Regions from separate parts of the Homo sapiens genome. Here region 2 is linked to region 1. Evidence: fine-mapped expression QTL. A gene starts in region 1. The other region holds a variant in brackets. All regions are shown on one strand. Distances are from middle to middle. Region 1 holds the start of LINC00402 (long intergenic non-protein coding RNA 402). Region 2 overlaps LINC00402 (long intergenic non-protein coding RNA 402).

The links. PIP is the estimated chance that this variant, and not a neighbour inherited with it, causes the effect.
Region 2: its variant is fine-mapped to the expression of LINC00402 in whole blood (TOPMed, PIP above 0.99).

The regions. Positions count from the first base shown.
Region 1 is chr13:74,226,680-74,239,827 of GRCh38, reverse strand. It overlaps LINC00402 (long intergenic non-protein coding RNA 402), which reads right to left and starts at 8,384. Exons shown (of 2, transcript NR_144451.1): 1 at 8,076-8,384. It also overlaps a transcript of KLF12 not described here. RefSeq lists a cis regulatory region at 11,825-11,838 and an enhancer at 11,760-11,904.
Region 2 is chr13:74,250,293-74,266,696 of GRCh38, reverse strand. It overlaps LINC00402 (long intergenic non-protein coding RNA 402), which reads right to left. Exons shown (of 2, transcript NR_144451.1): 2 at 6,721-9,764. It also overlaps a transcript of KLF12 not described here. Among named protein-coding and RNA genes, the nearest start is that of LINC00402, 27 kb to the right of the region's middle. The variant A/C (reference allele first, on the strand shown) is at 6,961.

The DNA of each region.
Region 1 (13,148 bases):
GGCTCAAAATAAAAGGATGGAGGAAGATCTACCAAGCAAATGGAAAGCAAAAAAAAAGGCAGGGGTTGCAATCCTAGTCTCTGATAAAACAGACTTTAAACCAACAAAGATCAAAAGAGACAAAGAAGGCCATTACATAATGGTAAAGGGATCAATTCAACAAGAAGAGCTAACTATCCTAAATATATATGCACCCAATACAGGAGCACCAAGATTCATAAAGCAAGTCCTGAGTGACCTACAAAGAGACTTAGACTCCCACACATTAATAATGGGAGACTTTAACACCCCACTGTCAACATTAGACAGATCAACGAGACAGAAAGTCAACAAGGATACCCAGGAATTGAACTCAGCTCTGCACCAAGCAGACCTAATAGACATCTACAGAACTCTCCACCCCAAATCAACAGAATATACATTTTTTTCAGCACCACACCACACCTATTCCAAAATTGACCACATACTGGGAAGTAAAGCTCTCCTCAGCAAATGTAAAAGAACAGAAATTATAACAAACTATCTCTCAGACCACAGTGCAATCAAACTAGGACTCAGGATTAAGAATCTCACTCAAAACGGCTCAACTACATGGAAAATGAACAACCTGCTCCTGAATGACTACTGGGTACATAACGAAATGAAGGCAGAAATAAAGATGTTCTTTGAAACCAACGAGAACAAAGACACAACATACCAGAATCTCTGGGACGCATTCAAAGCAGTGTGTAGAGGGAAATTTATAGCACTAAATGCCCACAAGAGAAAGCAGGAAAGATCCAAAATTGACACCCTAACATCACAAGTAAAAGAACTAGAAAAGCAAGAGCAAACACATTCAAAAGCTAGCAGAAGGCAAGAAATAACTAAAATCAGAGCAGAACTGAAGGAAATAGAGACACAAAAAACCCTTCAAAAAATTAATGAATCCAGGAGCTGGTTTTTTGAAAGGATCAACAAAATTGACAGACCGCTAGCAAGACTAATAAAGAAAAAAAGAGAGAAGAATCAAGTAGACGCAATAAAAAATGATAAAGGGGATATCACCACTGATCCCACAGAAATACAAACTACCATCAGAGAATACTACAAACACCTCTATGCAAATAAACTAGAAAATCTAGAAGAAATGGATAAATTCCTGGACACATACACTCTCCCAAGACTAAACCAGGAAGAAGTTGAATCTCTGAATAGACCAATAACAGGATCTGAAATTGTGGCAATAATCGATAGCTTACCAACCAAAAAGAGTCCAGGACCAGATGGATTCACAGCCGAATTCTACCAGAGGTACAAGGAGGAACTGGTACCATTCCTTCTGAAACTATTCCAATCAATAGAAAAAGAGGGAATCCTCCCTAACTCATTTGATGAGGCCAGCATCATGCTGATACCAAAGCCAGGCAGAGACACAACCAAAAAAGAGAATTTTAGACCAATATCCTTGATGAACATTGATGCAAAAATCCTCAATAAAATACTGGCAAAACGAATCCAGCAGCACATCAAAAAGCTTATCCACCATGATCAAGTGGGCTTCATCCCTGGGATGCAAGGCTGGTTCAATATACACAAATCAATAAATGTAATCCAGCATATAAACAGAGCCAAAGACAAAAACCACATGATTATCTCAATAGATGCAGAAAAAGCTTTTGACAAAATTCAACAACCCTTCATGCTAAAAACTCTCAATAAATTAGGTATTGATGGGACATATTTCAAAATAATAAGAGCTATCTATGACAAACCCACAGCCAATATCATACTGAATGGGCAAAGACTGGAAGCATTCCCTTTGAAAACTGGCACAAGGCAGGGATGCCCTCTCTCACCACTCCTATTCAACATAGTGTTGGAAGTTCTGGCCAGGGCAATCAGGCAGGAGAAGGAAATAAAGGGTATTCAATTAGGAAAAGAGGAAGTCAAATTGTCCCTCTTTGCAGACCACATGATTGTATATCTAGAAAACCCCATTGTCTCAGCCCAAAATCTCCTTAAGCTGATAAGCAACTTCAGCAAAGTCTCAGCATACAAAATGAATGTACAAAAATCACAAGCATTCTTATACACCAACAGACAAACAGAGAGCCAAATCATGAGTGAACTCCCATTCACAATTGCTTCAAAGAGAATAAAATACCTAGGAATCCAACTTACAAGGGATGTGAAGTACCTCTTCAAGGAGAACTACAAACCACTGCTCAAGGAAATAAACGAGGATACAAACAAATGGAAGAACATTCCATGCTCATGGGTAGGAAGAATCAATATCATGAAAATGGCCATACTGCCCAAGGTAATTTACAGATTCAATGCCATCCCCGTCAAGCTACCAATGACTTTCTTCGCAGAATTGGCAAAAACTACTTTAAAGTTCATATGGAACCAAAAAAGAGCCCGCGTCGCCAAATCAATCCTGAGCCAAAAGAACAAAGCTGGAGGCATCACACTACCTGACTTCAAACTATACTACAAGGCTACGGTAACCAAAACAGCATGGTACTTGTACCAAAACAGAGATATAGATCAATGGAACAGAACAGAGCCCTCAGAAATAACGCCGCATATCTACAACTATCTGATCTTTGACAAACCTCAGAAAAACAAGCAATGGGGAAAGGATTCCCTATTTAATAAATGGTGCTGGGAAAACTGGCTAGCCATATGTAGAAAGCTGAAACTGGATCCCTTCCTTACACCTTATACAAAAATCAATTCAAGATGGATTAAAGACTTAAACGTTAGACCTAAAACCATAAAAATCCTAGAAGAAAACCTAGGCATTACCATTCAGGACATAGGCATGGGCAAGGACTTCATGTCTAAAACACCAAAAGCAATGGCAACAAAAGACAAAATTGACAAATGGGATCTAATTAAACTAAAGAGCTTCTGCACAGCAAAAGAAACTACCATCAGAGTGAACAGGCAACCTACAAAATGGGAGAAAATTTTCACAACCTACTCATCTGACAAAGGGCTAATATCCAGAATCTACAATGAACTCAAACAAATTTACAAGAAAAAAACAACCCCATCAAAAAGTGGGCGAAGGACATGAATAGACACTTCTCAAAAGAAGACATTTATGCAGCCAAAAAACACATGAAAAAATGCTCACCATCACTGGCCATCAGAGACATGCAAATCAAAACCACAATGAGATACCATCTCACACCAGTTAGAATGGCAATCATTAAAAAGTCAGGAAACAACAGGTGCTGGAGAGGATGTGGAGAAATAGGAACACTTTTACACTGTTGGTGGGACTGTAAACTAGTTCAACCATTGTGGAAGTCAGTGTGGCGATTCCTCAGGGATCTAGAACTAGAAATACCATTTGACCCAGCCATCCCATTACTGGGTATATACCCAAACGACTATAAATCATGCTGCTATAAAGACACATGCACACGTATGTTTATTGCGGCATTATTCACAATAGCAAAGACTTGGAACCAACCCAAATGTCCAACAATGATAGACTGGATTAAGAAAATGTGGCACATATACACCATGGAATACTATGCAGCCATAAAAAATGATGAGTTCATGTCCTTTGTAGGGACATGGATGAAATTGGAAATCATCATTCTCAGTAAACTATCGCAAGAACAAAAAACCAAACACCGCATATTCTCACTCATAGGTGGGAATTGAACAATGAGAACACATGGACACAGGAAGGGGAACGTCACACTCTGGGGACTGTTGTGGGTTGGGGGAGCGGGGAGGGACAGCATTGGGAGATATACCTAATGCTAGATGACGAGTTAGTGGGTGCAGCGCACCAGCATGGCACATGTATACATATGTAACTAACCTGCACATTGTGCACATGTACCCTAAAACTTAAAGTATAATAAAAAAAAATAAAAATAAAAAAAATAAACTAAAAAAATAAAAAAATTAAAAAATAAAAATTCGGTACCTGAGAATGAAAGTAAATGTGTGTATATCCAAATTCCACTGCTGATCCTCCATTAAGATGCTGTCATATATGTTATTATGAATTTTAATTTAAAACAAAATGCCAGGGTAATAATATTTAAGGAAATGAAAATAAGTTTGCATGGCTTTTTAAATCTACTTTCTGGATATGTCTTACATACTTCAAAGGAGAGAAATACTCCTCATGAAAGTATAGCTTTTGATAATTATAAAAAGCAAGTGTAAATAGAAATAAATTGCTATTAACATATAAAGATCTTATCTCATTTTTCTGTAGTATTTTATTTTTATAGTTAGAGTGAGGGGGAGGCCATCCACAACAGCAGATGTACATATTTTAGTCAAAGATATTTTGTAACTATCTTCTTCTTTGATTTCTCCCCTGTCTATTATAATGAGGAAATTGAGATATTCAATCACTTCATGGCATAAAGCTGTGTGATAAAAAGTAAACTTTTAAAATAAACATAGGGAAGTGCAGAAAATAAATTATAGCACTGATTGAATACTTGCTATACAGAATAACTTAGATAAACTCTTGACACATGTTATCTCATTTAACATAAACCATGTTTTCTGGTTTCCTTACTGGCACCTACTACAAATAGCACCTGCATGTACTTGTTAACGTGAATTTAATGCCTTGGTAATTTATATCAAGTATCCAAACAAGGGCAGTCAAAGCCCAATTTTTGCTTACATCAACGAGGTTACAAACATCATCTATGACCCTCAAACCTCTGGATACATCTGCCTTCACGAGTTGACAAACACTCCCAGAAACTGTCTCATCAAAAACCAGAAAGCAAGTGACCACTGAGTCCATTTTGGTTTCTTGCATCCAGACTGTGTTATGTCACATTTTAAGATAAAAATATATACACATAGAGGATAGATAGTTAGATAGATAGATAGGTAGATAGAGAGTGAGTACTCAGAAGAGGACTTCAGAACTATCTCTAAGATTCTATCATTACATACAGTAAATGTATACCTTTTTATAAATTTTAAATAAAAGAAAAAGACCTTTCCATAAATTCCAAAATATGAGGTATCGATACATATAATGGTCTTCAGCAGGCAAAAGAGATTTGGAAAGAGATCTCCGAAGCTTTTTTTTTTTCCGAATAAGAGGTAAGAGTGGCAAAACCTACAAAATGTAGGTAAGTGAATCTACTGAATGGTCTCCAAATGTATGTATAGCCAAACGAATGAATAACTTGTCCTTCCTTGCATAATGACTTTTCCTTTGCTCCAATACCTTTCTTATTTCTGACTTCATTCTGTTGGTTTTAAAAATATGGACAGCTTTTAAGTGTAGCTTTATACATTAAAGATTGGATATTATCAGTTATTGGACAGGTACAGTGTGTCATACAGTGTTTCATGTGATTTGCAAACATAATCTCATGTAAGTAAGGTAGTCCTTCTTATCCAAGCTTTACAGATGATGAAAATATGGTTCAGAAAAAAATTAAGCCACTTGCTTAGATTCACACAGTTTTTGCAAGTTAGAGTTCAGATTTGAATCCAGGTCTTTCTGATTCTAAAATTTGAATTCTACCCACTGTGTTATGCTGCTTCACAGAGAATCATCTGAACATGCTGTACTGTGTCTTGGGATGCATTTTTATCTATAGGTAATATTTAATGTAGCAGCATTTTTCTATATGTATTCCATGGATGGCACTTATTTTTAATAGACTTTATTTTTTAAGCTGTTTTATGTTTACCAAAAAATTGAACAGGAAGTACTGAGAGTTCCCATCTATCCCCTCCCTACCTGTTATCCTCCTATTATCAACATCTTGCAATACTGTGGTATATTGGTTACAATTAATGAGCCAATACTGATACTTTCATCAGTGTTGTGGTTTTCTTCATATAGAACTTGTAGATATTTTGGTAGATTTATATCAAAGTATGTCATTTTGTTGTTGTTGCTAATGTAAATGGCATTGTGTTTTTTATTTCAAATTCCAATTGTTCATTTCTGGTATATAGAAAGCAAATGATTTTTGTATATTAAGCTTGTATCCCGCAATATTACCATGTTATTTATTGGAATGCCACTTTTTAATATTATTAAACATTCTTATCATATGATGATCTGAAGATGTCCATAAGGTGACAAGTTGCCTTATTATAAAAGACCCTCTGCTCTTTAATTCTAAAAAGTATATTCTAGATTTGAGATTAAAATTATTTCATTCATCTGTCTTCATATAGAATATTTAGTCATCTCGGGGATTTCTACAAACAATTCATGAGTTACTTTTAATTGAATATTATCATGCTTCTCCAAACTACAATGTGTAATTAGAAACAAAGAAATTGTATTTAAGTGTTACAGATTATGAATCTGCATGGGTGAATATGCTTCTGGAAGAACTGGTAACAAAATGACTTTTTTCCATTGCTCGTGAAATACTTGTCCCGAGGCACTCTCGTGTTTTTCTGGCCACGTATATGTGACATAAGCTCCTGTTGGGAGTTTCCCACCACAGGTATGCATTTCAGGGCACATAGTGGATGGAGCAGGTCAGGGCTGCTGGACCATGGAATCAGTATGATCAGAAGGGCCCTGAAGAAGTCGCAAAAAAGTAAAAAGTTCTGGTGTCATCCCATGTAGGCCGACAACAACAAAAAAGTTATAGGTATACAGTGTATCTTTATAAAATAAGATCAGGCCAGGCGCGGTGGCTCACGCTTGTAATCCCAACACTTTGGGAGGCCAAGGTAGGCAGATCACAAGTTCAGGAGATCAAGACCATCCTGGCTAACATGGTGAAATCCTGTCTCTACAAAATACAAAAAATTAGCCAGGCATGGTGGAACGCGCCTGTAGTCCCAGCTACTCGGGAGGCTGAGGCAAGAGAATCACTTGAACCCAGGAGGCGGAGGTTGCAGTGAGCTGAGATCACGCCACTGCACTCCAGCCTGGGCGACAGAGCAAGACTCTGTCTCAGAAAATAATAATAATAATAAATAAATAAGATCAACAAAATTTGATAGGTATAAAGATCACTGTATACCTATCACTTTTTTGTTGTTGTCAACCTACATGGGATGGCCCAACACTTTTTTGTTGTTGTTGACCTACGTGGGACCACATAATTATCAAGATAGAAATAGAAAAGCTATTCAAAATGTACTTCAATGTCATATACAGTGTATATTTATCACTTTCTTAAAAGCTTGGGACAGTGTATAAAATTACTTTTGTTGATATAGTTTCAATTTTCAGAGTGTAAAAACTGTCAAACCTAGATAAGACACTCTACTTTGAATGTAAAGTAAATTTCTAAAAAGTACTTATCCTTTTTTAGGTTTAGATAATTATTTAGAGGTGTGAGAGCATGGAAAAAGATATGACAAGAACAAGACAGTTTCTTATAGTAATCTGGTTCAAGAAATAATACAAACATATATGAATGAATAAATTATCAAGGTCAAATTAATGTAGCAGAAACTGAGACTGCCAAATGGACATACAAGAGAGTCAGCCGCAAAGGATCATGAAAGTTTACATGACCACAGTTATCAATTTGGAAATAGAAAATCTATTTAAAATGTACTTAAATATCATATTAATCTTCTATACACTTCAGAGAGGTGGAGTTTCATTGTTGCTGTTGTTACTAGTGTTTTTGTTGAATAACCCATTCTTTAGGAAGCACATAATGAAATTAACTCTGACTCCCTCCTTCTTCCCACACTGTCCCACAACCTCTTCCTCTGCCAGCAAGACTTGGAAGGAAGATGATTGTTTACAAGGGAAGGTAGATTAGTTTATGTTACTCCCAGATCTTGTTACACCATGAAATCATATAGTAAACATAGCTTCTAGAATTTTAACTTCCATATGTTATATTATCAATTCAGACCCCCCAAAACTAAATTTCTTTGAATATCTAATTTTAATAGGTTAGATGCTCTCTGCCAATTTTTCTCCTTAATATACAAACCTAACATGATAATAAAAACCAATAACAAAATCAGAGGCTTCCTAGACAGTAGCCCATCTTCATTTCCAGGTTAAAGATTTTGGTTGAGACTATTTGCAAGCATATAATAATAATTCCTGTGCAAGAGAGTCTCTATTGAATGATACGTACTCTGAAGATGGTATGAAGGAAAGAGGCTCTTAGGAAGATCCAAGCTGGCTGCCAAGCTTCCATATCCACTTCAAGGTTTCCTGTAATATTAAATGCTTGGCCTTCACAGAAGATATTTCCAAAGACAACATATACATTATGTTGTATATGTTGGGATAGTCAGGGCTGGAGGCTCCCAAACTTGTATATGAAACATGACATAACAGAAAGAGCAGGCTATTTGGAGGGAGAAGGTTGGGTTCAAGCCCAAGCCCTCAATCTCATTGACACTGCAAACAGGGACATCACTTAACTTCTACGGGTCCAGTTCACAAGTCTGCCTTACCTCTCTAGATAATAGTTTTGTTTTATCAAATCAAATGATGTGAAAGTAAGAACAAAAGAAGACATTGGTAAGATATTCAAGAGGTTAAAAGAGGATGTGGTAAGTGATTACCATATTTCTCCCTCCTCTTTCTTCTCTTAGTTTTAACTGCTTAGCAAAATATTTACTGAGTGCCTGCTAAGTTTCAGCGATAAGCCCTGGAGATACAGAGGGAAAAAAAAAAATGACATGGTCCCTGACCTGAAGTAGCCAAGGAGTGACATTTACCTGACTTTACTTTTATAAGGATCACTGTGGTTACTACATTGAGCATACATGACAGGCAGATGACGATGCAAGCAGAGATACTTGGTTTATACACTACTGTATCATTTCAGGCAAAAAAAAAAAAAAGGTAGCAGCTTGTACAAGGGTGGTAGTAGCGAAAGTACTGAGGATTCAACTAAGATGAGGACCAATGACTAAGCTTTGGATTTAACACAGCAAAAAGATATTCAGTGTTCTTGAAGCACAGACAACGTTTAATGAAAACTAGGAGATCAACAGAGGGTTACTCATAACAGAATGAAAATTCCATGAGGCACATTGGAAAGAATTGGAAGGGAGGTCAACAGGAGATGGAAGCATAGGAGAGAAACAAGCACCAGGTTTAGAGAAGCTTGCTTCTGGGGCAATAGATAAACACTTGATAGTCGTGCATGCACAGAATTCTGTGCAGTTGGCCCAACAAGGGTGTGGTGCCTCGGGGTAGAATTCATCCCGAGTACGTGAGGAGACAATCCTCTGCCTCCATAGTTGCTCACTTTCATGCAAAACCAGCTGTTACCCATTTGGTTGGGGAACTGAGGTAAACATAGTGGAACTGAAGAGGATTGGAGTGGAGTAGCAGAGTCCTAGCCCTTGAATAGAATTTTTGCCAGGTAATTGATGAGAGTGTGGATGAGCACAATTATACCTATTATTTATTGGGTACATACTCTGTGTCTGCCATGCTTAATCTTCACCACAGAAAACTTAAAGATACGTGTATTAGTCCATTCTCACGCTGCTATAAAGAACTGCCCAAGACTGGGTAGTTTGTAAAGGAAAGAGGTTTAACTGACTCACAGTTCTGCAGGGCTGGGGAGGCCTCAGGAAACTTACAATCATGTCCTTCTTCACGTGGCAGCAGGAAGGAGAAGAATGAAAGTCAAGTGAAGGGGGAAGCTCCTTATAAAACCATATGATCTCGTGAGAACTTACTATCACAAGAATAGCATCAGGGGAACTGCCCCCATGATTCAATTACCTCCGACCAGGTCCCTCCCAACACACATGGGGATTATGGGAACTACAATTTAAGATGAGATTTGGGTGGGGACACAGCCAAATCATATCATGTGTTATCATCTCATTCTAAAAATGAGAAAAGTACAGCTCAGAGAAACTAAGTAATGTACCTCATCTACCCATCTTCACACAGTTAAGTGACAGCATTAGGATTTGAATCTCTCCCTCTTTCCATTTTGCTTTGAAGAGCCAAGGAAACATGTCACATTTTAGAAGATAAGGAGTTAGGATTAGGTGGAAACACAACATTGGTAACACTGGGGAGACGGGACTGAAATAGTCTGTATAAGAAGCAGAACTGACTTAGGGTCAGCTGAGGTTTTTGGCCTTCCAAACCAATCCTTGTAGCTTATTCCGGTGCAGGCCTTGGTTGTTAGTGGCTCCTGGGCTGCCCCACAGTACCTATGAAAAAATGGAAAGGAACAGTTACCTTCTAATTTTTCCAACCTAAAAGAAGTAGTTAGTATTTTAGATAACTTTCCAAGTGTTGGTATAAGTGAATAGTTTTCTTTAATTAAGACTATCTCATAAACTCTTACCTTTTCCAAATTCTCACCCTTTCAAGTCTGACAGGAATAAAAACTGTTGTTACCATGCATCACCGTCACCAGAGCTTCCTTACTTTTTACAAGCAGCTGAGCACACCATGGGGCTGAGGAAAGTACAGAATTGTTGCCAAGTGCAGGTAGAACTCGTGAACCTGGCATGTTCAAAACCACGAATAATAAATACAGGAGTCAAAGGACTTGTTTTTGGCCAGGATTTAACTCTTTAGGAATGTATTCTTCAAAATATTTAGGGACACATTGCTTATTATGTATTTTTATCTTGGTTCAAAGCTTTCATTCCTAACGACTATCCCCCTTATAATTTCACACAAAAGTGACATATACATAACTTTGATGATTTGCTCCAAGAATCAAAAAGCCAGAGAAATGGCAACATAATTATATTTGCTCAATATCCAGTACTATCCCAACTCACAACTCTAAAAGGGCATGTTTCCTTGTTTGTCTTACTGTTTAAGGTAGTCAGCACCATTACAAGTTTCAGCATATAAATTAATAGAACACAAAGATCCACTGTATTTAACTTTGATTGGCTTCATGTACTGAGGGTTCTTAGTATTTGGTGATGTAGATTCCAATGGTATTAACATTATTCCCTAAGCTTGGAGCAGCAGTGTTTGATTTCCTTCATTTTTCTGGTGTGTTTTTTTTTTCAATTTAATGAAGACCATGCAAATTGATAAAACACTAGCATTTAATCTTTACTTTTTTTTTAAAGAAAAATACATTAGGGGACATAAATAAACTGTGACACAAATAAACTTCTTTTTATCCAGTGTCCTGACTTGGGGGTCCAGTTTCAATTTCAAGTATTCTGTCCCATCGTTTCCATTTAAGTCACATCAGATTGTCATAATATACATCCAAGTTTTGAATTCAGACAATATAGATATCACAGTATGGGTAAAAAGAGCCACTGATTTGGAATCAGACAAGTTAAATTCTCATTTAAGCTCTGCTACTGATTTCTGTGGGACCTTGAAAAGGGGACTTAACATTTCTAAGCTTAATATTTCCTTACTCACAAAGTGATGCAACTGGTCTAGGCGACCTCAAAATTCCATTCTATTCTAAAATCTTATGAATATGTAATATTTTATAGGAAAATAGTGTATAAATATTATTTCAATGATTAAAGATATAGAACCTATTATTTTAAAACCTAACATGTCCAGCTCTCATTGGTTTGCTTTTTCAAAATATATTATTTTCATTCCACTTTAATTCATGACTTTTTTACAAGTTAAGTCTTGAATTGTTTCTACTATATAATATAGTTTCAGATTTTTTAACATACGGTGCAGAAAGTTTGCTCTACAGCAAAATGTAGAAGAGGAAGATAATATTCCTCAGACATAGATAGTTCTGAAGCTCATCCAAGTAGACAGGTAAAATAAACTTTGGGAGAAGAAAACCGACATTTAAAATTGGTAAAGATACAAGTATTTTCGCAGAAATAACATCTTATATTTCCACAGCAATCTGTCTCCTTTTCTTTCTCCCAAACACAAGAAAAAGGCATTTCAAGTTACTGATTAACTTAAACATACTGATCTTTGGCTCGTCTAAGGTCCACGAAAGTTGACTAAACATTCTTCTACCAAAGAGAAAAACTAGAAAATTGAAAACATTTCTTAAAAAATTATATTATCTGTTATCCTGATATATCAACCCAAAACCTCATTTGGTTGGACTATGTTTTTATTTGTTCTTTTTGCCAGAGAAATCGGGAACTTCTAAAGGAATTATTTTCTTAAATATAAAACTAGGTTTTTGTTATCACAATAAACTCTATGTTTCCATGAATTGCCCACTTTCTCCTAATATTTTCCACTTTAGAATGAGAAGCCTAGGTTTGTGCAGAGCTGATTCTATAACCACGGGGATTCTTATGTATTGTTTGCTAAGCCTATGTATGGAGGTAAAAGAGTTAAACCTTTAAGCAAGGAGCCATTTTGACTAAAAATAGAAAAAACTTTGGCCAAGGAATCAAAATGAATACACCACTGAAAATAAGTTATTATATGTGACTTTACAATATTAAAGAGGAAAAAAATATGAAGAGACGTAGAAAATTTATCTACTATTATTGCACAACCACTCTGTAAGAGGCTGCATGATTCAATTTGGGGTGATACAAAAATGAACAAGACAGGCCTTTTCTCCAAGAGTTTATGTGATATTAACCACAAACACACTCATTGAAGGCAAAATGTGGTTTAATCCTGTGACAGGGGTACAACACTCTGCAGGAGTCCAGATTGCTGATATTTGAGCCATCCTTGAGATTAAGAGGATTGTGACAAGAATAGACAGATAGGAAGAATATTCTGGGTAGAAGGAACAAAAGCACTGTCACAGGCGATGAAGAGAGCCATGTTTGAGGAAAGGCAAGTGATGCTACCCATGTAGGGTGTATTGGAAATAAAAGAGTCAAAGAAAAATAATATTAATGGGAAGTGGCTTAAAGGATTTGTTAACAAAACAGTGAAGAAACATGACGAAACCAGTGCTTAATTAAGACAAAGAGTCTGAGCAGTATGCAGAAAACCTTGGAGTGGGGAAGACTGGAGGCAAAGAAATCTGTTAGGAGACTCTTTCACTGGGACTGTGGGTACACTGGGAAACAAACAAATGACTACTATGGTTTCTCAATCCCTACTAGTCTAGAAGGAGAGGGAGTCTGCTATATGTAACGTATGGTATCAGGGCAGAATGTTGAGGAATGAAAGTTAGGGTACCTTTCCCAGTTTAGCTGGAGAAACATAGCGTTAATAATTATCATAGAGCAATCTTCTGGCTTAATTGCAAAAGTATGTGCAGACTCATTTTGATACACTATGGAAAGAG
Region 2 (16,404 bases), 25 kb before region 1:
ACCAAGAGCTATCTATCTATCTACGTATCTATCCATTTATTGATTTATTTGGCATCTCAGGCTACTAATTAGTCACAGGAATCCTTCCATGAGGCCACTGGGGTTGAGAGAGAACAGCAGCGTAGCAGGATGATACCAGGAAGATGAGAATCCTCCTTGTGCAATTTAACATGTGCATTTAAGATTGGCTTGGAACCATTCCTGTGCATATGTGTGTGTGTATATGTGCACGTGGATGCATGGGTATGTGTGCATTTCACTTGAGGGAGTACTGCTGTGGATTCCTCACTTTATTTTTTGGTGAATGAGCTTGTGACTCATTCATAATGGGAAATTCAGATCATAATGCCAGGTATTTAGTCCTACCAAGGTCCAGTAGCATTTCAAGAGTTGTTTCTCAAAATAGGACTAGTTACTTACTGGAGAGGTCATAACTTTGATTTTTTAAATGATATTAGAGGTCTTGACTGAGAATTTACTACTGGAGCTCCATAAAGCATCCCAATCTGCTACAAACTCTTCAAGCTTCATTGGATCCGCTGGATCAAATGGGCTGCCAGGTAGAGTTGATTGCACTGCAGCCTGGACTGATTGCCAGGAGCTCTGTTGATATGAGTTAGTGAGGAGACAACATCTGGAACAGCAGCTGCACTTGGAGGCACCGCCTAATTAAGCTTACGATAATCCACACTCATTCTCCAAGACCCATCTGTCTTCCCCATCAAACTAATTGGAGAGTTGAATGGAGCTGCGATAGAAATGACCACAACCTACCATTTCAGTCATTGATGGTAGCACTAATCTCTCAGATTCTATGGGAATATCCTACTGCTCTTGGTTTTTCTTTTAGTAAGGAAGGTGAGATCCAGGACTTCCATCCTTGTTCTTTCCTTTCATAATAACTCTTATTCCTGAGTTAAGAAGTAAATGTGAGTATTTAGCCAGTTGTCTAGAGTATCTTTTCCAAGAACACACAGGAAATGAAGGGAAAAAGAAGAGGATGTGTCTGTAGGTCCCACTATGCCTACAGTGAGATGGGCTTGGGTCAAGACTCTATCACCTGAACATCATACATTTCTACTCTGACCATTGAACCACAGTGCCATTCTTCTATAACAGACATGTGTAATTTGGGAGCCATTATCTTAAAACAACTGAAAGGTCTACTTATATTCTTTTCTTCAGAATATATTTACACCAGAAAACGACCACAGGTCTAGAAATAGAGTAATGACTCTGTTTTTCCTTTGGTGAGCTTCATCCTGAGACATGGGGATTTTATGCAAATTTATTAGGAACTTTGTGATTGCCCATATATCTCAGATCTATAGACTCAATGATCAATAAATCAGTGTTAAATATCTATGTGTCTCTATTAGGGAAAGCACGAATAAATGGCCTCTGGAGGTTAAGTGCCTGACTTCTGCACCTGCCCTTCTCAATCATAGGATCTTTCCAATCTCCACTGTAATCAGGCAGACTATTTCAATATTAGTCCCTCCCATCAATATCCCCAACTGACAAGAGAAGCCACAATCACATTTTTGTAGATACTAGTAGTTCCCTCATAAGTATTTCTCAAGGCCTTAGTAAAAATGGTCATCTATGTCTACTTAGGCAACATAGTTAGGAAGTAGATGAGATTCATGTTATAAATTCGGTCATTTTATTTCTTTCTAGGTACTATTGTAAATAATTTATGGCATCTTAATTTTCTTTAGCATGATCAATAATCTATACAGCTTCCTGTATTAAAAGTAGCTTGCCCTCTCTATGAATTCAGATAATTGCACTATATGAAAAAAAAATAGACTAACCTAAGACTACATTTATTCACTTTTTGGTTGAGCATGTTTGGAATTTAATAAGACATATTCTCCCCTAGGTATTTTATTATACAAATTGTTAAGTATATTTATTTTGTGTATTTATTTTGTTGTATAAAACTATTACACAAAGTTTGACAACATAAATTAGTATGCTGAAATCCAAATTCAGTTACCAGTTTGAAATGAAAATGGGGGAAAGAGGGTTAGGATCTGAAGAGAACTGACTTAAGAGTGGGAAGGACTGCCTCTTCCAACAAAGAAAAGGGTTTTTACCTGAGCTATTTTGAATGCACCAACTGGCTAAGGAAGCTTAAAGAATTTGGATTCTGTGGCTATTTCAAGTCCTTCAAATCCTCCCATATATCTCCATTTTAATATTCAGAATGTCACTCTGTCCCATTTAATATTTTAACTCTCACCAAAGAAGCTGAAGAGGGGATAAGTAATGTGTTAACTTGGCAACTCAAGACTACCCTTTTTATTTATTTTTTGGATACCTCATCTCTACAGCTATAAGAGTCCAAATATTCTGCTAGCATCATCAGGTAAAGTTCCCTAAGCTTAAGTTTGTGACCCAAGAATTTAATATTTGAGCTTGTCATTCTTTTTTTATCCAAGCCACTTAGTTTGTCTAACAGCAGCCCCTCACACACCCAGTTAGTTTTTTTCAGCTGTTATTCAACATCAGCAAATTGATACCCAAAGCCTGATCTTCAATTTGCACTGGATTCCAAGTAATGGAAAGTTAACCGTTTTGTCATTGCTTACCACAGTCTGTCATCCTTCGATCACTGACACAACTGCATTTTCACTGCTTTTAACCCCAGTTATGCCAGGTACAATCCCAGACTTCCTCCTTTTCCCTGAGATCTGGTATATAATCTGCTCCTGGAACCAACTTTCATATTAGTCAAGATTGTGGCTGCCTAGAAAAAAAACAAACCTGGCTATAAAGCACCCAAAATAATTGAAGGATATTTATTGTATACTCCAAAATCAGTAAAAGCCCTGAAGGACAAGATTTTTAAATGGTCAAGAATCCATGGAGTATCATGTTAGCTGAGTATAGGGTCATATGACCAGACCTGAGGTGGTGGGATAGACAGAGAGAATTTATTTTTTCCTTTTTGAGATGGAGTCTCGCTCTGTCGCCAGGCTGGAGTGCAGTGGCGTGATTTCAGCTCACTGCAACCTCCACCTCCTGGGTTCAAGCGATTCTCCTGCCTCAGTGACAGAGGGAACTTCTATTCATCCTTTACTCCCATTAGCTTGCTCTGAATGAGAAGAGAAAATTAAACTCAGTAACTCACTAGAAGTGTGGAGGAGGCTATAAACAGATAAATATTAGTACCATATTACTGGATGAGAGTAACAGGTTGAGTGTCAAACGTGAGCTGACAAATACTTTAAAAAGCAATGATCTCAAACCCAATTCTATATGCTCTTCTACTGGGGCATATATTCATAGAGTCAGAGTCTTTATCTTATGGTTCCTTTAATCTCTTGCTGCATACAATAGCAACTTAAATGTGAATAAAATCCTTAATAATGTTTTCTTCAATTTCCCTTAATTTCTGATGGGTTTGAGCAAGTTAAACTACCTATGTGTAATTTTTCTCAAGGCTACTATAAGTAAAAAGATGTGTACAAGGAGCATTACATTATTTTTTACTTAGCTATAAGAGTTAGACATGAGAAGCATTTTAGTTAGAAGTATAAAGAACTTACTTACTTTAAATACTTTCTCTCTTTTATAAATGAAAATGTCCTTGTCTTTAATAATGTTCATCAATTTGAATATTCCTTTCTTTTTATGTCTTGGAGCTGTTAGACAGTATTTAGCTCTGAGGCTGACATTTGGTATTTTTACTGAATTTGATTTTACTTTCAGCTGTATTTTCAACCTTTTAAAAATATTGAGAATTAAGCACACTGACGAAGAACCAGGTAAAAAATTACGAATGCATATTTGTCAATAACATTAGGGACTCTGTGAGATATATACATATATATATGTGTGTACATACATATATACGTACATATATGCACACATATATATATATACTATTATTCTGAGACATTGCCTTCCTGAGGTCCTAACTGAGTCGGGATCATGCAAGTCTTCTCTGGAAATACAGTTGATCCTCTACATCTGTGGGTTCCACATTCAGGGATTGAACCAACTGTGGATCAAAAAAAATTGTGTTTGTAGTGGACATGTACAGTCTTTTTTTCTTGTCCTTACTCCCTAAACAATACAGCATAACAGTTATATTGTTTACATAGCATTTACATTTCATTAGGTATTACAGGTAATCTATAGATGATTTAAAGTATACAACAGGATGGGCATAGACTATATGCAAGTACCACTCCATTTTATATCAGGGACCTGAGCATCCTCAGATTTTGGTATCCAGAGAAGGTCCTTGAACCAATTGCTCATAGATACTGAGGGACAGCTATTCTTTCTTAGCATTTAAAATTTACAATCGCTCTTGTGCTTTCTTCAAATCTCATGAAGCTATAATGTCTCAGGCTACAGGTTCTTCCAGCCATCATTCACAAAATATTGATCCAACCTCCTACAGCTACAATTATGAGTGATGCCTTTCACAGTGTTGAAGATCAACAACACTTCTAATTGCCTCTCATTTGTTCAATTCTACTTGATCATTTCTCTGAAAATACCTCAAGTCAATATTAAACATGCATTTTACCATCAGCCATGATACTCTACCTGTGTCTTATTGCAAGTTGATTATTTACACCACTTCTGGAAGCCACAGTCTTTCAAAATTGTAGACCAGACCACAAAACACATGGCAAAAAGAGAGGCCCCAGTGCAGTGAGCCACACACACTGAGGAGCACACTCAGCTCGGGACAGCACAGCACAGCACTCTCTGAAGGTGAGAATTTGCAGCATGGTGGGTTCTTGCTCAATGGATGAGCATGTTCATTTGGTCATGAAGCTCTGACTGGCTAACAGCATACAAGAACATTTGGCAAGCACAGAGTTTACCAGTGTACTACCACACACACGTTTGTGTCTGCATGTGCATATTTTTTCAGAAAGATAGTTTAGAGACAAATGGCTTCATAGCAAATCCATGCTGCCCAAAGAAATGTAAAATCAGGCACACCTAGATTTCTGTATCCTTATTAATATTTGTGTATACATATATAATATTTGAAATGTCTGTAGAAAATGTCAAAAGACACTAAAATCTAAATCATATATATCTGTTGTGTATGTGTTTATATACAGTCTTTATATGTTGTTCAAAGATGGCCTATGTAGCCTGTTACTTTATCACAAACTTTTTTTATCTTTTCTTTTTTTGAGATAACATTCAAGAAAAGCTAGCAGGCTTTTACCCAATTTGGTTTGAATAGAATGGGAAAATGAAATTTCCTATCATACTCCATCTAATGCTTCCACCGAAGCACTTTTATTTTGAAATATTTTTTTATTTTCATGCTTCTGTTTAGAAAAAATTCTGCGTATATATTATGGAAATTGCATCCATAAACAGGTAAAATATATAGATGTGAAGATAATTTTCTTCTATTCCGCTTATTCTCTAATTATATTTATACCAGGGAAACACAACACATTTCGGAATAGTTTTCTTTGGGTGATTATTGATATTATTCTGTTAACCACTAGGTCTTCTCAAAAGTGTCACTGCTATTTTAATACATATTGATCTCTTTTTAAATTTTTTTAAAATTTCAATACTTTTCGGAGAACAGCTGGTGTTTGGTTACACGGATAAGTTCTTTAGTGGTGATTTCTGAGATTTTGGTGCACCCATCACCTGAGCACCGTACCCAATGTGTGGTCTTTTTTACCTCACCCCCCTCACACTCTTGCCTCCAAGTTCCCAAAGTCCAGTGTATCCTTAAGCTGATGAACTTCTTTGTTTTCAAAATATTTAGTTTGCTTTTTTCATTTTTTCTCACCTACATTTTTCTTCAAAATTAATGACTGCAAATCTTGTGCTTCTTTTTATTCTTTAACCCAATTTGTTTTTCTTTGTATGTTTGTTATTAACACCAATTAGCACACATACCCGCAAATTTTTATTCTTCCCAGCATTCCTACACATTTACAATTAGTGTCTATGTTCAGCACCTTCATTACTCTTCCAAATCACAGGACCTATTTTTTTTATTGCTTTTCCATTTGAAGCCCAATTTTATTACTTAGTACCTCTCCAGCAATTAATTCACTATTTTATTTTATTTTATTTTATTTTATTTTATTTTATTTTATTTTATTTTATTTATTTTATTTTATTTTATTTTAGAAACAGTGTTTCACTCTGTCACCCAGGCTGGAGTGCAGTGGGGCAATCATAGCTCACTATAACCTCGAACTCCTGGACTCAGGCGATCCTCCCACCTCAGTCTCCCAAGTAGCTAGGACTACAGGTGCACCACCACACCCAGCTAATGTTTCTGCTTTTTGGAGAAATAGTGTCTTGCTAGGTTGTCCAGGCTGGTCTCTAACTCCTGGCCTCAAACGATTCTTCTGCCTCAGCCTCCCAAAGTACTGGGATTCGAGGTATAAGCCATTGTATCCTGCCCGATTTACTCTATTTGAATTGTTGCTATGTGTCACATGAGAGAGAACAGCATGCTCCAATGGTCCAAGTAACCTCTTACCAAAGCACATACTCTGAGACTTTGCAGTTACCTCCGTGTGTGCATGTGTGTGTGTGAGTGTGTGTGTATTTAGTTTACTAACATTTTGAAGCTCCTACTGTATGAAGTACTTTGTATATAGCACTCCAGAGGGGACACAAAAGAAACAGCCTCCACCTTTAATATATTTATAAATTCACTAGAAAAATGCTTAGAAGAAGTAAAATCAATTATTCGTTAAAATGTTAATCAGCCCCAAATGGCATAGTTTATTTATGCAATGCTCCAGCAAATTTTTATCAATGCCTACTATGTACCAGTAGGCCAGGTCTAGGAGTGCAGCAAAATCATGGTATCGGGCCCCACAGCCTTTGAAGTGTGAACAGAAACCTCAAGTGTGGTGAGCATTAAAAAGGACAGACCTTTTGGAGTAGGCAACACAAAAACTCATCCTAATCATGGGGATCAGAAAAGGCTCG[A/C]TTGAGTTACTGATGTTTACACTAAAAAGATTAATAACATTGAGTAGATAAAAGGAAAGAAGTGGAGAACAAGGACTGCATTGTTGTAGTATTGGCTAAAGAAATTCTTAAATTGGGGTTTTAAAAAAGGCATTTGGAAAGAAAAAACCTTAAGAGGGGCATGCAAGTCAATCTAAATATATTTTTAAAGGATTAACTATGTTTTCTGTGAAAAATTCTGTGTACTGGGAGGGACATGGATTAGTGAAAATGACTGAGGAACAGATTCCAAGTGGAAGAAACACCTGAGTGAAGAATGGAAGGCAAAATTCTGTGTGTATTGGCTTGACCATGGAAGAGAAGCTAGGCAGGAAAGAGGTTGCAGAGAGATGAGGAAAGTCAGTAGAACCTTTACTATCTGAGAAACTATGGTCTAGAAAGTAAATACAAAATAAATGAGAATAAGAGGAATTCGAGGCTAGAAGGGGAATCCCTGGGATACTGTGAGTGTTATTGCCTGGATTAGGGTAATGCGGCAGATGCTTGGTGCCCTGCCCAAATCCCCTTGGCATCCCATTCCCATTTCCATACACACCACCTGCTACCTACCACAAGCATCTGTGACTCTCCATCCTCGGGCTTTCTCTGGCCACAGAAGCATGCCTGGTCTATCTGGGGCACAGGCCAGAAGTTTGGGGAGGTTAATGCCCTTAACCAGTGAAGCACGGAAATTAGCTGATCAGTACCCTAGTTCTCTTGCCCCAGCAGAGGGGGACAACTCTGGGGCATGTTCTACTCAGTCTTCCAGCGCTCTCTTTCAGGAGAGAGCACCGGGACCTTCTATTAGCTTTCTTCACTTCTCTGTATTACTTCTCTACTCTCTTAGCCTTTCTGAGATCAACTCCAAAAAAACTGCTTGCATCAAATCCTGGTCTCATAGTCTGCTTCTGGGGAAACTAAGTCTGAGCAGTGAGTTACTAAGAAAATTGAGGAAGAGTGGGGAGTCTTTGGAGATAGCGATAAAGAGATATTCCCTCGTTGAGTGTTTAACCTATGAATTAACTGCCCATCCCCATCATACACATCCAACTCCACGTTCCCCTGATAACAAAGATAACACTTCTTAGTTACATTCTGTTTATCCACTAAATGTACAATAATGGATCACACCAATACTGTCACTGAGAGAGATATGATCCCGCGTTTACAAAAATTTGCAAAAATATAATTTTTAGTGTTTTACATTATTGAGTCCTGGTTATTAATCTCTGCTTGTTTTGGTTACCACATCACAGTGAATGAGAACCCATAAAGTCAGGACATTTCAACATTAATAAAGACCTAAAACACACACAGGCAGAACACTCACTTTATAGGTATTGGAACTGAGACTTAGGGGAAAGAAATGACTTCAGCAAAGTCACACAGCTGGTGACAGGAGGCCTGGGAGTAAGATCTGGTTTCCCTTTCTCTCTGCCAAGTTCAACTTATACATAGCTGTCTTCCAGCAGGGCCAAATACCTTCAAAAATAATAGGAAACTTTGGTTTTACTACACACACACACACACACACACACACACACACACACACACACAAACACAGTAATAGACCAAGATGAACCACTTTGAAGGAAGTTGCCCTTAGTGTTAACAAAAGAGCAGATTTTAGACACAGAAATCACGATTCATAACATTCAAAAACTTGTCCTCCTGCCACGTTTTTTTTTCTGGATTGAAAGATAATAGAAGTTATGTATAGGAGAAGCAGTTCCCTACCCTCTGGTAATGAGAAGATATTTATCTAAGTGACCTTTGTTATTTAATACAGAGAAGACTTTTCAAGTAAGACAGGAAATAGCTGATATCTACTTATCAAAACACCACTCACCAGAATTTAGAAATGAAAATAAAAAAGGGAAAGATGAGTTTGAGCTGAAAACTTCTAGAAAAAAGCAACAAAGACAACCAATGTTGCCCCAGAGGTTGGCAAATGTTAACACAGTTGCGTTGTGGAAACTAATTTGGGTTCACAAAATCAGATGTGTAGAAAGTGCATCATTTTTATAATTATATAACTGAATTAATTTCCGTATCAAGCTCGCAGTCCCCCAGGTGACAAAACTTAATTTCCAACAAATCATGTCCTTGTGCCAAGGTTGCCTCTAAGTTTCTGGGAAACCTTGCAATGTGCTGGAGCATCCACGGGAGAGGGGGATGAACTTTGGATCTGGGTTTTCCATCCATACATGTTCCTGCTCCATCTGGCTCACACTGACCATCAAGCTCTTGCGGTCAGCTGAATTTCAGTGTCGTGTTTGTACCGTTTTCCTATGGCTGCATAGGAAAATGGTTTGCTTCTCCTCGTGCCATGCTGGAGAGTACAGGGACTCTCGGGAGTTAACTCAGTCCACTAGCCTGGACACCAATCATGACATTTCATCTGCTCCTGTGCCATGGAAAAATTCAGGGAACTTGCTGTTTTCCCAAGCCCTCCCCAGAAAGGCAGCACCAGTCTCTTCTATATCTCAGATTTTCAGCCGCTTCCAGGTCCTGGGACTCAGGCCATGGAGTACAGGCAGAGAGTTTCCAGGAACAGCCAATCTCTAATTCCCTCTCCTTCCCCAGCCCATGTACCTCCTCCAGCCTAGGCTCTATAACTAGGAAAACTGGCCCTGGCTCATTACAGATTCTTCCAAATCTTGCCTGTGTTTCGACCGCAACTTTTGACAATTCCATAAGGCAAAATGTTCACTCTGTTTTTTCTCTCTGTTTTGGATGCCTCATGGGTTAGCTGCTTAAGTAGATAAGATGTCACGGAATAACAACTGCAACAACAAAAAAAAGTAGAAGATTAATCAGCAATTAATATATGAAAATATGTCTTCAGGGACAGTGACACAAAATTTAATTATTATTCTACCATTTCATGTGTAATATAAGATCAAACAGTGATTAAAATCGGGACTAGTGAATGACAGTGAGTCTGCAAATAGTAGGCCGTTTCCAAAACAGCGTGGCAACAGATAGGAAAATCTTAGACACACACACACACACACACACACACACACAAGCTCTACTCAGAGTTTTCCACTAATAAAAGAAAAGCTTAATGCTGTATAAACTCACCCCCTCACTACCACCACCACCAATGTGTTGAAGTGCTAGCTTTACCCTACTGATTCGCTGGTGGGTTGAAGGGCTCATTATCCCACCCACTGTAACTTACCTATTGATGGAAGTGTCTCCTGTGGATCATTTCATTTTAATTGTTTTACTGTACCAGTCCCTAATACAGTCCCACCCAGATCCACAAGTTACTCAACTTTTCATCTTCACAACAATGAGATGAACAAGTTCCATCCTCTTGATTTGAAATGTACAAGAACAAGACCCACAAAGCACAACAGTGGCTGAGCTGGGACTGGAATTCAGTTGTCTTTATTTTCAGTTATGTGTTTTGTTCTATTTTGTTCTGTTTGTGTTGTTTATTGTTTTTATCCTCTGGGCCATGCTGATTCCAGTGTTAGCCGATATCAGAGATGTGAGCCAAGTATGTCTTAGCCTTGAAGCAGTTCATTCCTGACTTCTTTTTTTTTTTTTTTTGAGACAGAGTCTCACTCTGTCACCCAGGCTGGAGTGCAGTGGCGCGATCTCCCCTCACTGCAAGCTCCGCCTTCTGGGTTCACGCCATTCTCCTGCCTCAGCCTCCCAAGTAGCTGGGACTACAGGCGCCCGCCACCACGCCTGGCTAATTTTTTGTATTTTTAGCAGAGACGGGGTTTCATCATGTTAGCCAGGATGGTCTCGATCTCCTGACCTCGTGATCCACCCACCTCAGCCTCCCAAAGTGCTGGGATTACAGGCGTGAGCCACCGTGCCCGGCCTCATTCCTGACTTCTTTAAGGTAGTAGATGTCATCTCAGTCATCTCATTAGATGATGGCATTTGACTGGAATCTAAAAACATTTTATTTGAATTTTATGGAAATATATTTGTCTCCTCAGTAAGCAGCAGCAGTCAGTAGATAGAGTTAGTTCTCCTATATACAACAATCTTATTTAGCAAGAAAACATTTCTTAGAAAATAATTTCTAGGCTAGAGACACAATTTTAATTAAGTAGAAACCACTCAATATAATAGAAGCTACAAATAACTGTTTTGTGGATATCCTTCTCAGGTCAAAAATAATTTGGTAAAACAACTTCCTGAAATTATATCCATTTTAGGTCTCATTACATCATGCAATTGAAAGCTCAATGAAATTCTGATTAGTAGCCTGCTGTTAAATGATACCACATAAAAGGCAAAATGTCATTTAATTGATAAGCAACTAAAAACTTAACTAGGCTATATACCCTCAGCAAATGAGTATACATCAAAAACAATGATGTTATATTTCTTCATTAATCCTAAAAATGCACTCTGGCACATGCAATGTGCTGAGTGAAGTTTGTCTTTGTACCCAACACCCTCCTTCTTTAACTTGAAGACAGGCTCAGTCTCTCTTATTAACCAGTATTTATGGAGCACTTACTTGGGACAAGTTACCATGCTAACCATTATGGGGTCTTAAAATGAATAATAAAAATGGTCCCTTCCTTAAAGTATTAGTTTACTAAATATCTGTTACAGAAGATATATTATTTTTAATGCTAAATTTCTAAAACTAAATCCTAGACATTAGACAGGAGTATTGATCAAAGCTCAGGCAGCCAACCTTTGCAGGCACCAATCTTTTCTCCAACATTCTTCTAATTCCTGTCAATCTTGGCTGATGATCACAGCAGCAGCCATTCAAAGTGAGAAGAACTGTTCCCTCTTGAGCTCTATGGTCCATTTATGGCCACCTCACCTTTTCTTTACTTATTCATAGCACAGCTGAGGTAAAGCCTGCATATTTCAGCGAGGTTTATTAATAACTAAGGGACAAACAACAAAAGAGAAATAAACACACACACACGCACACAAACACACACACACATACACGCAAACCATGGCATGTGATGGTGTGATTTAGACCATATATGTATTTATTCTGTTTAAGGAGTCACTTCCCTGTCTAGCTCCGAGCCTCACATCACACGGAAGAGGCTACCTATAAACTTTACCACCTTAGAAGCACAGTTGAGAATTTCTAGATTCAGCAGGCAATGGACAGAATGGTTGTGATCATGGGCTTTGAGGTCAGTTAGAAATGAGTTCAAAACCCAGCTTTGCTATATTTCTGTGTAGATTTCAGCTGTAAGTATCTATAATCCTCTGAAAATTGCATTAATAATGCCTGCCTTATTGGGTTGTTCTCAGAATTAAAAGAAATAACAAGTACTTGCCACATCACAGACCATAACTGCACAATAAGTAGTATTAATGTTATCATCCTTATAACAATGATCATGTAAAAGCATAAGAGATATCAAAACCCAAGGTGAATGGAGTTATCTCTTGCTTACCTAGAGCCTACCATCCATACTTTCATTTTCTGTCTCATGGCCTGTTTTATCCTAGTTAATTGGTACCAAGAAAGTCCACTCCAATCAGTAAAGACTATGTGGACATTTAGCAACAGCACTACTAAAAGGCAAAAACAAAATAATCCACTCAGTAAATAAAAACACACAATCCTGCATGACATATACATATATGGAATGCATATAATTATGCATGAAGGGTTAAACAATAATTAAAAGATAATTCAAGGCTTTACATAATTAAATAGAAAACAAATACACAACCAGCTTTGAGGGAGAGAAAGAGGAAAAGAGAGAAATTGATAAACATGATTTTTTAAAAGACTCCCTGGTCAAATAAGTTTTAGAAATTCTGGTTTAAAAACATTAAAAGTTTCATATTGTAAGGCTTCTCATAATCTGTAATAAGCTAATGTGCACTATGGAGCTCACATACTGGGTACATAATTTGTAGTGTTTTCATAATTTATATAGGCTGGGCTTTTGCAAATGTGTCTCACTCTTTGCTTGTTTGTTTGGTGGTAGTACAGATAGTTCATGAACTAGAGTTCTTTGGAATACATTTTGAAAAATACTGGTAAATTCGAAAAAGTATTATTATTCTAGCAGATAGATAGCTCTATGTGCTCTAACAGGCTGGCAAGTTTTAATGGGAAAGAGGTTTTAATCTCTTTGAAAAATGAGTAGGACAGAGCATTCAACATCAGAATTAATAAATTGATACATAGCTACTTAAAGATATTTTTACATATTCATTTATTTATAACATTCCCTTTTTATTTCACTTATACTTTTAATATCCACAAGGGATTTGAGGTGGCTCCCAGAGGTATATTTACCCCTCACAACCACTTAGCTACCACTTCAAAATAGTCCTTTACATTGCATGATATATTGTGGTTTCAAAGTCTTCACATGCAGGTTTCTCAGAATATGATGTGCTTAAGAATGTTGGGGGCAGGGGTGTGCAGTCTTGTTGGTAATAGTGATTCTCAGCCTGCAGTCAGATTCCTGTACTTTTAGCAAACATCTCAGGTTCCTCTATATAGGTAATGTTAAGACTATACTTTTTAAAAATGTTGCTTTAGATTAACGTTATTTTAAAATAATAGCTAATCAAAACTTTATCTTATTAAACTCTAAAAGCATAGATATTTCTCTAGAAATACAGATGATGAATGGGTGGATAGATGACAGTTAATAGATGGATTCCAAGGGTTTAAAGATGATAGATAGATGATAGATAGATAGGTAGATAGACAGACAGATAGATAGATAGATAGATAGATAGATAGATAGATAGATAGATAGACAGATGACAGATAGATAATAGATGGATTCCAAGGCTTTTAAATACATAAGTTATACATAGGGATAATCTAGACCGGATATTTCTAGTTTTTTGCTGGAATAATTTGTCTCTGCAAAGAGGTGACTTGAACTTCTAACGTATTTGTTTCAAATTGAGAAATAAAGAAAGGAAGAAGGGAAGGAAGAAAAGGAAGAATGGGGAAGAGAAGGGAGGATGGGAAGGAGGAAGAGAACAAAGCTGGTAGTTGTCTTTAAATATTTCTATTTCATTAAGAGAGTTTAAAGGGCAGAATTTGCCTTATATAATCATGATTAAGGATAATAAATAATTTGATTTAGAGCCACTGAGTTCAATGCCTATAGAAAGTAATGGTTAAATCTCTTAGAATTATGGCAGCTTTAGTTTCGTTATCTTTAGTGGCCAACCCCTCTCCACCTGCTCTTCCAAATGAGGAACATGGAATCTGGGTGCTGTGATATGCTGAAGGTTGTAGAGGCAGTTAGTGACAGTGATAGGGTCAGTCTTTTATGATGACTGTTGGGTCCTAGCCAAAAGCTGCACATAAGGCTGCATCTGAGAACAGCAGGAAAGAGGTATACCTGTAACAAAGCCTGGGGTCAAGAGTTAACCACATTTCTGTGGCAGGCCCTGCAGCAGTCACAACAGCCTAAGTCATAATGTGTGAGGAGCAGGTAAAGTCAGCTGACTTGGCTGGCAGCCCTACCTAAGGGTCCTTGGCAAGGTGAAGCGCAGCAACCAGAACCTTTCTAGGGTAAACAAGCGTTAGGTCAATAATCTATATGTCTAGTTTCTTAACAACTAAGGGATAACTAAAGAAAAATAAACACACACAACAAAACAACATGGTATAAGATGGTGAGGCTTGCACGGTCCTTGGGGGAAGTGGTGCCTGCCCTTGTGAATCAGAACCACAGCTGTCAAGTTCAGCCTGTCCCAGACCCATCCCAACATCCCCTAATGATTACCTGCCATCTGCGTTCTTGGCCACACCCATCTAGGCACCAAAAACTGACTCAGCCTAGCAGAATTAGAAGCTCTGACCCTGCCCGCTTGCAACTGGGGTCTGGAAACTGTCCATTGCTGTCTTAAGTCATGCAGCCTGGAGGACAACAGAATCCTCTGTGCCAGAAAGAATATTACATTTCAAGTTCCCTAATTAACCCTCATGTCACAGCCAACTTGTCTAACTGACCCTTTTGAAAGTTCGTTTATAATGCTGGGTTTCTCTTGCAAGCAACTTCTCCATGGTAGGGAATCAGGAACCTATCTCTGAACGCCAGTCAGCCAACTGGGGAGCCAAATCTTTCTCACCTGGTGGGGGAGGGTAGGAAGATGAGGGAGGATGGGAGAATGTTAATACTGGAGGAGAGTAAGGTGGCAAGGAGCAGGAAGTGCATCAGGAACTTAGCACATCAGACCTCAGTGGAATGCAGGGGTCCAGCCACAATGAAGTTTTGAAAAGTAAAAACCCATTCTATATAAAAGTGAAAATTAGAAAATCACAGAAGATTTGCTGGGTGTGGTGGCTCATGCCTGTAATCCCAGCCCTTTGGGAGGCCAAGGTGGGCGGATCACTTGAGGTCAGGAGTTCAAGACCAGCCTGCCCAACATGGTAAAATATTTTATCTACCAAAAGAAAAAAAAAATTAGCAGGATGCATGCTTGTAATCCCAGCTACTTGAGAGGCTGGGGCAGGAGAATCGCTTGAACCCAGGAGGCAGAGGTTGCAGTGAGCTCAGATAACACCACTGCACTCCAGCCTGGGTGATAGAATTAGACTCCATCTCAAAAAAAACAAAAAAAGAGATTACCAAGAAGATTACTCAGTACAATGAGTTCACGAGATTCATAGCTGGGTGATTTACTCAGATATGACAGACACCAGACTCAGAACTATGGTAATGAAGCTTTCATTAAACTTGTAGCCTGGGGCAATGTCAGGACAGGCAGCAGGCATGGCTGTATCCAGGGGATGGAGATCCTGGGCTCCCTTGAGAAGAACTAGGGAAGACTGGGACTGACTTTAATTTGTTGTGTTAAAACTGCAACACTTTTCATTAATTATTCTTTGAATGTTGGCATGTTTTCTCTACCACTTTTGGCACATCTATCTTTTTGCTGCTTTTTCGAGGTGATGACTAATGCATGTAATGGTTAGAAAAAAATATAAAACTATGCAATGCTGAGTTCATTTTTATAGCAGCCTTGATCCTTTTTTTCCTTAGGTATCTTCCTAAACAGCCTTGATCTTTTTTTGAAGTTTGATTTAATAAGACCATCAGTCATTGGCGTGTTCGATATAATGAGTGCCTGACAGATGTAGCACAGAATTGCTGGACTCTCTTACCAGGAACGGGGTTAAGCTTCCTCACCAAGAAGCCTAGCTCTGGCCTTCTCTGCCCCTACCCTTCCCTAAGGCTGCCTCCAGCATTCCCTCCAATAGTCTCATGGTTCTAACCTTTTTCTTTTTGATACCCTTCTTCTTCAGCATCCTTTCCTCCTAAGTTCTCCAGGGTTCCTTTCTCCACACATTTCTCCTTTCACCTGGTGTTAATTCTTGTCCTCATCCTACCTGCTGATGACCTCAAAGACCTTTTGCATGATTTCAAGATATCTGTGGAATAATTTCACAGTCCTGCCATCAACATTTTTTACCAACTAAAG